2 separate regions of the Homo sapiens genome follow, and region 2 is linked to region 1. Evidence: fine-mapped expression QTL. A gene starts in region 1. The other region holds a variant in brackets. All regions are shown on one strand. Distances are between the middles of the regions. Region 1 holds the start of GOLGA3 (golgin A3). Region 2 overlaps GOLGA3 (golgin A3).

Evidence for each region. PIP is the estimated chance that this variant, and not a neighbour inherited with it, causes the effect.
Region 2: its variant is fine-mapped to the expression of GOLGA3 in hippocampus (GTEx, PIP above 0.99).

What each region holds. Positions count from the first base shown.
Region 1 is chr12:132,826,666-132,832,038 of GRCh38, forward strand. GOLGA3 (golgin A3) reads right to left here and starts at 2,204. Exons shown (of 24, transcript NM_001389683.1): 1 at 2,138-2,204. RefSeq lists silencers at 1,482-1,581, 2,082-2,141, 2,512-2,721 and an enhancer at 2,292-2,431.
Region 2 is chr12:132,773,714-132,779,086 of GRCh38, forward strand. GOLGA3 (golgin A3) reads right to left here. Exons shown (of 24, transcript NM_001389683.1): 19 at 3,953-4,092; 20 at 3,245-3,377; 21 at 2,921-3,043; 22 at 1,428-1,592; 23 at 444-607. Among named protein-coding and RNA genes, the nearest start is that of ANKLE2, 15 kb to the left of the region's middle. The variant A/C (reference allele first, on the strand shown) is at 2,403.

The DNA.
Region 1 (5,373 bases):
CCAGAGAGAGAATTCACTAACTGCCTGGAGTTTGGTGACAGTGATACTTCTCCCTGTAGGGCAATAAGCTGGCAGTCTCGGTCGATTCCCAGTCTTGCTTGATTTTTAGTTAAAATTTGGAATGACTCAGTCGTCAGGGCCTCATTACCTCAGACTACTGACAAAAAGCGATCTCCGGGCAGCGAGGAGGAGGAGCAACTGCCAGTGCATCACAGAAAGCTGGTACTACAAACATGGCTCTATTTTAAATAAAGAGGCCAGTCTAATCAGTCTCACTTATGATCACTCGCACTCCTGCGTCTCTAGAGAGAAGAGACAGGACAAAGCTGTCACTTAGAACTGCGAAAGGTACACACAACCCTAGGTTCACAGCTGGGTAACATCAAGGGACTTCATACTGAGAAACCACCACCTCAGGCACCTACAGGACTTTCTGCTTCCCCCACACCTGAATTCTGTATACAAACATTCACGGCTCCATCTACACCACCTCGTTTCACCTGTTCCTATCGGGTATTAGAAACAACAGAGCACAGCCAAAAACCAAACACGATTTCCTCAGGAAAAGAGTACCTGGTGGAGGCCACACTAGTATCCAAAAGTAAACACAGATCTATACACAAAGTGAAAACCAAAAGCAAGCAAGCCTCATGTCACTGCAGAGACGTGAAGGGCAGGCTTGGAAGTCAGGACTCCGGCCTCAGCTCCCGACCCTCCACCACTTACCTGTGAGAGCCTGGGCTAAAGATTTCTTAATCACATTTAGCCTGTTTCCTCACCAGTAAAACAATGAGAAAATGAACGCAAAATTTTGCCAGGATTAAATATAACAAGGCACAGAGTCTGTCCCGTGTCCTCAATAAAATGACAGTAATTATCACGATTTTCCCTTTAGTTGTTGCTTGTCAAAATCGCTAAAAGCCAACTGAAGGCATTCTCACTTGGGAAAGTATGCTACTTCTTAAGGCAATCGGGGGAAAAAAAGCTCCTCTTCAATCTGAGTGATGTCAGATGATTTATTTCCTTCTTGCCATTTAAGGTATACTGCCTGAAAAGATATTAAAGGGTTATAAAGCGCTATGTTGATGTCGTTTAAAAGACAGTTCAAAATAATCCACGACGACGGGTGTGGCTGCTCACACCTGTAACACCAGCACTTTGGGAGGCTGGGGTGGGAGGATCGCTTGAGGCCAGGAGTTCCACACCAGCCTGGGCAATACAGCAACACACCCAGTCTCTTAAAAAAAAAAAAAAAATCCATGAGTCATCTGTAAATGGCTTACACTGGCCCAGTGACAATAAACTCCAACCTCTTAAGAATCCAGCACCTGCCTACACCAACATCCTTACCGCCATCGCTTTCCCCCTTTGCCATTACACTGTGGCCACATCCTCCGCCCTCAGGGTCTTCAAACTTTCTGCCTGAGGCGCGCTTTTCTCACAATTTTGCCTGGCTTGCTTCTCGTCATAGAGGCCTTAGCACGGAAGTCGCCCGCCCCCCAGGCTCCCACTTAGAGTAGCGGACCCCACCCAACCACCGCCCGGTACCCTCTCGCTGGCGACCCTGGGTGTCCCTGTCCTAGGTGGGCTCCGCGGGGGCAGTGACCCAGACCCACAATACCCAGGACCCGCCACACGACTGACATTCGTCGGGTTCATACCCGTGACAACGCCCGGCCCCACTCGCTCTGGCCACCTGGAATGAAGACAAGTCGGCCAGCGACAAAGACAAACAAGGAAGTACACGGACTCCTGAAACCCCGACTTCCCACGAACCACCCGACACCATGTCACGCCTTTCAGCTGCAAAGGGCCAGGCTAAAGCAAGCACTGCCCGAGTGGTGGCAGTGGACAGCTTCGGGACAGGCCGCGCTCGTCGGGCGCAGACAAGCATTCAGGAGGGCTCGCGGGCACCGGCATTTACAGAGCCAGCTCCGCCGCAGCTGAAGGCGGGCGCCCAGGCCCGAGGCCACCGCAGCGAGGCGGGGGTGACTGGAACGGGGCCGTCCCGCCACGCTGCAGGGACGCGCCCAGGCCCCGCCGCCGCCCCTCGAGCCTCCCCCGCCCATGCACTGCGGGAGCGGGAGCGGGAGCGGGAGCCCGAGCCCCGAGGCGCCGCGGCCTCCGAGCCCCTCACCCTGCTGCTCTGGCAGCCCCGGAGGCCGCCCGGCCCGGATGCTCCGGCGGAGACGTGGCCGTGAGAGGGGCGGGGCGAGCGGTGCATCGGCCTCGGGTCCCCGGAAACAGCCTGCACGCGCTACTTTCGTTCCGGAACAGAGAACGTCCTCCTCTTCTTCAAGTGGCCACCCTAGGGCCGGGGACCCTCTGCCCACAGGGTCCGGATCGAGCTCACCTCCGACTGTGATGAGGCCGCCTTCAGAAAGTGACCTTAAGAGTTTGCGGACCTTTCCCTAGTAGAAACGCAACTTCCGGAACTGCAGGACCAACTCTTTCAGGAAGCTGAACCGAGCTTCCGGCGGAAGTGGCGTGGCCGGGGCTCGGCATGGGCGCGGCCGAGCTCGGTGTGGGCGTGACTTCCCCGCCCGCCCTAGTCGGGTCCCCGCCCCAACCCCGCACCTCCACCCGGCCGGCGCCCTTCGCGCTTCAGGTGCCAGATCAAAGGCGACGCTGCTTTGGACCCTATTTGCTTCCCCTTTAAAAAGGGCAAAGCTGGACGGCGCGGGCCGCTGGCCGCTGGGGAACGGCTTTCCACCTTCCCTCATCCGCCAGGCCGCTCTTCCAGCTGTCAGGAAGGAAATGGCCTGGAGGGCGCCTCGGGGTCCTCTGTGATGTTGCGCTCATCTCTGCGGATTTTGGAATACGCTTCAGTCTACGAAGTTTTCTGGGATTTTGATGGGAACTGCTGCAGATCGTTTGGGGAGCACGGGCATCGCTGACTCGGTCCTTCATCTGCGTCCCTGGTGGCCCCTCCATTTATTTCGGTCTTTTGATTTCTTCCACCAGCATTTTGTAATTTCAGCATACAGATTCTGCACCTTTTAAGTTTATAGTATTTCACATCAAACAACTGTAACACTGCGTTTTTGACGTTTTCCACGTGTTCACTGTTGGTCTACACAAATGTGATGAATTCTATGTTGATTTTCTTATCCTGAGACCTCGCTGAACTCATTAGTTTGAGGGTTCATTTGGTGTTTTGCGGTTGTTGTTGTAAAATCCTTGTATTTTTTACATGGGCCATCATGTTATCTGCAAATGCAAATTCTAACACAAAATGATCAGACTGAGGCGTAAAATATACAACTTTTAGAAGAAAACAGAATTTCTCACATCTAGAGCTTGGGGAAGAGTTCTTAGATCTGACCAAAAAAACACAATTCACAAAAGAAGTTGATAGAGTAAACTTCATGAAAAAATTAGAAACTTTTCACCGGATGCGGTGGCTCACGCCTGTAATCCCAACACTTTGGGAGGCCAAGGTGGGCGGATTACCTGAGGTCAGGAGTTTGAGACCAGCCAGGCCAAATGGTGAAACCCATCTCTACTAAAAATATAATAATTAGCCGGGCATGGTGGCATGTGCCTGTAATCCCAGCTACTCAGGAGGCTGGAGGAGAATCGCTTGAATCCAGGAGGCGGAGAGGTTGCAGTGAGCGGAGATCGTGCCACCAGCCTGGGCAACAGAGCAAGACTCCGTCTCAAAAAAAAAAAAAAAAGCCGGGCACAGTGTCTCACGCCTGTAATTCCAGCACCTTGAGAGGCCGAGGCAGGTGGATCACAAGGTCAAGAGATCAAGACTATCCTGGCCAACATGGTGAACCCTGTCTCTATGAAAAATACAAAAAAATTAGCTGGGCGTGGTGGTGTGTGCCTGTAGTCCCAACTACTCGGGAGGCTGAGGCAGGGGGATCACTTGAACCTGGGAGGCAGAGGTTGCAGTGAGCTGAGATCGTGCCACTGCACTCCAGCCTGGGCGACAGAGCGAGACTCCATCTCAAAACAAACAAACCAACCTTGTGAGAAAGACCACATTAAGAGGATGAAAAGATGAGTTACAGACTGTGAGAAAATATTTTCAAACCACGTTTGTTGAAGGACTAGTAGCTAGAATATATAAAGAACTCTCAAAACTTGACAGTAAAAAAAAATACAATTATTCTGGGCACAATGGCTCATGCCTGTAATCTCAGCACTTTGGGAGGCTAAGGGGGCAAATCACTTGAGGCCAGGAGTTTGAGACCAGCCTGGCCAACATGGAGAAACCCTGTCTCTACTAAAAATACAAAAATTAGCCAGGCGTGGTGACGCACACCTGTAATGCCAGCTATTTGGGTGGCTGAGGCACAAGAATTGCTTGAATCTGGGAGGCGGAGGTTGCAGTGAGCTGAGATTGTGTCACTGCACTCCAACCTGGGTGACAAAATGAGACTCCATCTCAAAAAAAAAAAAACCATACACACACACAAACAGAAGACAAGCAAAAAACATGAAAACACATTTCACTAAAAGGATATATGAGTGGCAAATAAGCTTGTGACCAGGTTCAGCATCACTAGCCATTACAGAAATGCACATTAAGACTATCTTGAGGTCAGGCGCGGTGGCTCAAGCCTGTAATTCCAGCACTTTGAGAGGCCGAAGCAGGTGGATCACCTGAGGTCAGGAGTTCGAGACCAGCCTGACTAACATGGTGAAATCCTGCTTCTACTAAAAATACAAAAATTAGCTGGGCATGGTGGCAGGTACCTGTAATACCAACTACTTGGGAGGCTGAGGCAGGAGAATCGCTTGAACCTGGGAGGTGGAGGCTGCAGTGAGCTGGGATCACACCATTGCACTCCAGCCTGGGTGACACAGTCAGACTCTGTCTCAAAAAAAAAAAAAAAAAAAGACTGCCTTGGGATATTAGTATACACCTATTAGAACAGCTGAAATAATATACAGCAGTGGCAATATGAAATGCTGGGAATAATGTATTCTGGAGTAACTAATCTCTTATACATTGCTGATGGGAACAGCAATAGTGCACCCACTCTGGAATATAGTTGGGCAGTTTCTTCAAAAAGTAAACAATTTTATGACCCAGCAACTGCATTCCTAGACATTGAACTCAGAGAAATAAACTTATGTCTACACAAAAGCCTGTACATTACTGACCCCAAACTGGAAACAACCAAAATGTCCTCTGACATGGTGAAACAAACCATGGACCCCCCACGCCACTCTGACATGGTGAAACAAACCGTGGACCACCCACGCCACTCTGACGTGGCAAAACAAACTGTGGACCACCCACGCCACTCTGACGTGGTGAAACAAACCATGGACCACCCATGCCACTCTGACGTGGTGAAACAAACCGTGGACCACCCATGCCATGGACACTACTCAGCAATAAAAAGGAGCTGACCA
Region 2 (5,373 bases), 53 kb before region 1:
GAGTTCCCCCACCTTTATATAAACCTCAGAGGCTGTGCGAGTCCCCCTCCCACTTTATATAAACCGCAGAGGCTGTGTGAGTCCCCCTCCCCCTTTATATAAACCTCAGAGGCTGTGCGAGTCCCCCTCCCCCTTTATATAAACCGCAGAGGCTGTGAGTCCCTCCCCCTTTATATAAACCACAGAGGCTGTGCGAGTCCCCCTCCCCCTTTATATAAACCTCAGAGGCTGAGTCCTTCCCCCTTTATATAAACCTCAAAGGCTGTGTGTGCAAGTCCCTCCCTTATATAAACCTCAGAGGCTATGTATGCGAGTCCCCCACCCTTATATAAACCTGCTGAAACTCTGCTGGGCACTCAGTACTGGCACCAGGAGTGCCCTCCCAGGTAAGAGGGCATTAATCTTTAAGACTAGCTGAAGTGCAGCACGGAATACGGTCGTACTTGAGCTGCTGGAGGCAGCTGTTCAGGTTCTTGAGGGGCTCCTTGCTCACGGCGGGCGGTGGTCTCAGCAGCTCCTCCAGCAGCGAGGCGGGAACTGGGCAGTCCGGGATCTTGATGGGCGTGGCAGGGTTGGAAGAGCTGGCCTCGCCTTTCGGCTCCTTTCTCTGTTTTTAAAAGCACATGATCAGCTTTCCCACCGTCCCCTCCCTCGGGTCAGTCTCACTAGCACAGCTTGTGGCAAACGGGCCTCCCCAACTGGTGGACGTGGGGCCTCTGGGAAGGGGACCGTCCTGGCCGCCGTGGCAGCCCAGCACGACAGTCCCCGGAGCTCCAGAATAGCTGGCTGAGGAAACACCTTTATTCCTAAGGCACAAAACCAGAGCAAAGCAGAGACAACCTAAGTCCTGGGTCTGCGGCAGGACGGGGCCGAGCCACAGACTACAGCTCTCCCAGACGCTTCTCCCATCAGATACTCAAGACCTTGATGTGGAATTTCCGTAAGAAATTAAGTAAGTTTTCCAGCTTAGGCTCCCTTTTCTGGGACTTCAAACTTTTTCCACAGATAAGCACACGACGCTAAACGGCCTCTCAATCCGAGCGCTGCCCTCCCACCTGCCTCCTGGAAAACATGGATGTGGACCGAGCACAGAAAACCGCCGGGCGCCTGGGCACAGCTCCCGGGCCCCAGCCCTTCACACACAGCAGGGACTGCCGAGTCACAGACCACCGCTCATCTGCTTTACAAAGCACATTACAACAAAGTGGTATTTGAATTCACAGAACGAGGAAAACACTGTTGGATGAATGAAACCAGAATGAAATGATTTCATCTGTCACCCCATTACCACTGACTACACAGCAGCTGCTCAGTGTGGGCTCAACAAATCCGTTTATGTCTGAATGACTAACACGTCTGCCAGCCTCCTGTCCGAGAGCATCTACAGCGCACGTCGGCTACCCCGGGAGGGACGCGGGCCTGAGTACCGTCTTGGCCGCGCCGCGGCGTAGGTCCAGCTTGAGCTGCTGGTTCTGCTGGAGCAGGGTCTTCATGTTGTTCTTCAGCTCCGACACTTTTGCCTGGAGCATAAATTTATCCTTCTGGGTCATGGACAGGTCTTCCTGGGCCATCTCCAACTCAGACTTGACGTTCTGTGGAAAATGAAGTCAGATTTTTAAAAGCTAACAGATCTTAAACATCCTGCCAAGATCCGAGTTTGTATTTTCATAGGTTAAGCACACACATGTCCTCCTCGGCGCCATCTAGATGATGCCAGTCCAGGTCCAAAATGCTCAGGACCAGAAGTGTGTCAAATTTTGGAATTTTGAATATTTGCGTTACAACTACCAGCTGAGTATCCACAATCCAAAAATTTGAAATGTTCCAATGATCATTTCCTTTATCATGTTGATGCTCAGAAAGTTTCAGATTTTGGATTTTTGTTCTTGTTTTTTTTAGACACAGGGTCTCACTCTGTCATCCAGGCTGGAGTGCAGTGGTCCAACCACAGCTCACTGCCTAAGTGCTGGGACTACAGGTGTGAGCCACCAGGCCTGGCCAGGTTTTGGATTTCTGGATGATGGACGCTTGTCGGCCTGTGTCTATAAATAAATTCTCACTGTAACTCAAGCCCCTCATTTACAAGGGGAACTTAGCAATTACACTCCTTTCCCGAGCAGTCAAGACCGAACCCTGAGTTCTTTGTTGAGAAGTTTATCGCAAATTGGCAAACTTTTCCCACGCACCCTCCCATTTGCTGTAGTCCATGAAATCACGTTCTTGGTCCGTGACACACAGCGCGGCCAAGGGATCGGAGCCGGCCCAGGCTTCGCCCCTGCCTCTGTCCTGCCGCATGACGTGGACCAGGTGGCTTTGCGAGCGCCCCACTGGACGAGGGCGCCAGCTCCCCGGGAGCACTGCCTGGCCGCAGGCCGCATGGCACAGGAACCAGGGGCTGCCCC[A/C]GAAGTGGTGCTCCCGCCTGTGTCCAGCACCTCATACACAGGTACCTGCAGCAGCTGCTGTAGCCCCTCCAGCTCCTTCCTCCCTGCTGCTCCCGCCTGTGTCCAGCACCTCATACACAGGTACCTGCAGCAGCTGCTGTAGCCCCTCCAGCTCCTTCCTGCCCTGCTGCTCCCGCCTGTGCCCAGCGCCTCAGATACAGGTACCTGCAGCAGCTGCTGTAGCCCCTCCAGCTCCTTCCTCCCTGCTGCTCCCGCCTGTACCCAGAGCCTCACACAGGTACCCGCAGCAGCTGCTGTAGCCCCTCCAGCTCCTTCCTCCCTGCTGCTCCCGCCTGTACCCAGCGCCTCACACACAGGTACCCGCAGCAGCTGCTGTAGCCCCTCCAGTTCCTTCCTCCCTGCTGCTCCCGCCTGTGCCCAGCGCCTCACACACAGGTACCCGCAGCAGCTGCTGTAGCCCCTCCAGCTCCTTCCTCCCTGCTGCTCCCGCCTGTGCCCAGCGCCTCACACACAGGTACCTGCAGCAGCTGCTGTAGCCCTTCCAGTTCCTTCCTGCCCTGCTGCTCCGTCAAGTCCAGCTGCTGCTTCAAGGACTGGATTTCTCTTTCTTTCTGATCCACCTCCCATTTGAGATTTTCCATCTAAAGAGGGGAAAGTCACATGGCCAAAAGAATATTAAAGTGGCTTTACTGCCCTGGAAAATGGCTCTAGCTGTGTTTTGGTTTATCTTTTAATACCATATTCAGAAAACCATCACTGTTGCTCCCCAAGCAGGATGGAGTGAAGTCACCCAGGGCACCCGTGAGTCCAGCCCTGCAAGTCCAGCCCCCGTGAACCGTCACCTCTTGGTTTCCCACGGGCTGTTTGCTGAGCTGCTCGTCCAGCTGCTTCTGCAGGAGCTGGAGCTGTGCCCGGGCCTCGGCCAGCTCTGCTTGGAACTGTGCTATCTCCTGGGAATGTTTCCCCTCCCGAATCCTAGCGTAAAAAAACAAGAAAGAAGGGAATCGCCACGCTCCTCCAGTGTGCTGTGCCCTCCCGCTGGGAAATGCTGCCTGTGGAAGGCGTTCGTCCTGGCAGGCCCTCTGCTGTGCACTGCGTGCTGCAGCCATGCTTGGTGCCCACAGTGTGCACTCGGGCAGTCCTCACGAAGCACCTGAGACTCACACTTCACTGGCACCCCTCACAGATCCCAGAGACTCACTTTGCCGGCACCCCTCACAGATCCCAGAGAGTGCCGGCCCCGAGACCACAGTGCATGGGACCCACAGAGCCACAGCATCAGCCCCGCGCCGGGCCGCCCCTTCCCGCCTCTGACCTGAAGCTAAGTACTCCTGCTGGGGCGCTTTCTCTCTTGGGGGGAGGACACGGGGCAGTGAGTGAGGCTCAGGATTCTGGAGACGGAGGCTGGGTGCCTTCTACTCCTATGATTCACTCAAGTACTCGGCAATTTGCAAAATATAGATGACCCTCGCTGTGCTGAAGGTGTGAATTAGACCCCGCCCATTGCCAGGACAGCCATGTTTGAGGGCTGGCGGGGCCCAGGCACTCACTGAAGGTCGTCGGCCTCGGCCTGCAGCTTCTGCACCAGGTGTTCCTTGGCCTGCAGCTCCTTCTTCACCTCACTCAGCTCCAAGGAGGCCGCCTTGAAGTGGCGGCGGTTATGCCCGGCTTCCACCTTGGCAGCAGCCACCTAGGAGGAAGGAAGCCACGTTGTCCATGCCCTGCGTGACACCCACAGCTTTATGACGTGCCGGGCGCAGGGGGTGAATGCACTCCCGGCCCCGTGCATGTCCTGGCTGCCGGCGTGTGCTTCTCCACAGGCCTGTCAAGTTCCTTGTAAAGATGAAACCACCTGACCCGGAGCTCGGCACGCAGCAAGTGCACACTTATGTGGCTGCTGCTATCTGTTGAATGAACACATTTATTCGAGATTTCTCGGTCTAAATAGTTTTTATAGTCTTCTTCCAGTGTATTCACAGCCTGGACAACATAGCAAGACCCTGTCTCCACAAAAAATAAAAAAATTAGCAGGGCATGGTGGTCCCAGGTACTCAGGAGGCTGAGGTGGAAGGATCACTTGAGCTCAGGAGTTCCAGGCTGCAGGGGAGCTGTGATCGCGCCACTGCACTCCAGCTGGGGTGACAGAGTGAGACCCGGTCCCAAAAATGAAATAAATAGGCCAGGCGTGGCGGCTCACGCCTGTAATCCCAGCACTGTGGGAGGCCGAGGCGGGTGGATCACGAGGTCAGATCGAGACTATCCTGGCTAACACGGGGAAACCCCGTCTCTACTAAAAATACAAAAAATTAGCCAGGCGTGGTGGCGGGCACCTGTAGTCCCAGCTACTCAGGAGGCTGAGGCAGGAGAATGGCGTGAACCCGGGAGGTGGAGCTTGCAGTGAGCCGAGATCGCGCCACTGCACTCCGGCCTGGGCGACAGAGCGAGACTCCATCTCAAAATCTCAAAAAAATAAACAAATAAATAAATAAAAATAATAAAATAAAATAAATACATTTAAAAAATAAAAATAAAATTAATTGGAAGGCCAAGGCGGGCAGGTCATCAGGTCAGGAGATTGAGACCATCCTGGCTAATATGGTGAAACCCCATCTCTACTAAAATACAAAAAATTAGCCAGGCATGGTGGTGCACGCCTGTAGTTCCAGCTACTGGGGAGGCTGAGGCAGGAGAATCACTTGAACCCGGGAGGCAGAGGTTACAGTGAACCAAGATTAAGCCACTGCACTCCAGCCTGGTGACAAAGTGAGACTCCGTCTGAAAAAAAAAAAACCGAAAAAAATTCAGTGAACCCTAAGCACGGAGCGAAAGCTGGAGAGCTGGGGCACCGTGTGAGCCAGCCTGAACCACGGCCCAGCAGCAGGCCCCAGGCCAGGGTTAAACGGCCGGGCGGATGAGGCCTGTGGGGCCAAGAGAAAGCTGTTAACTGCTCCTGTTAAAATATTCCAGCCAC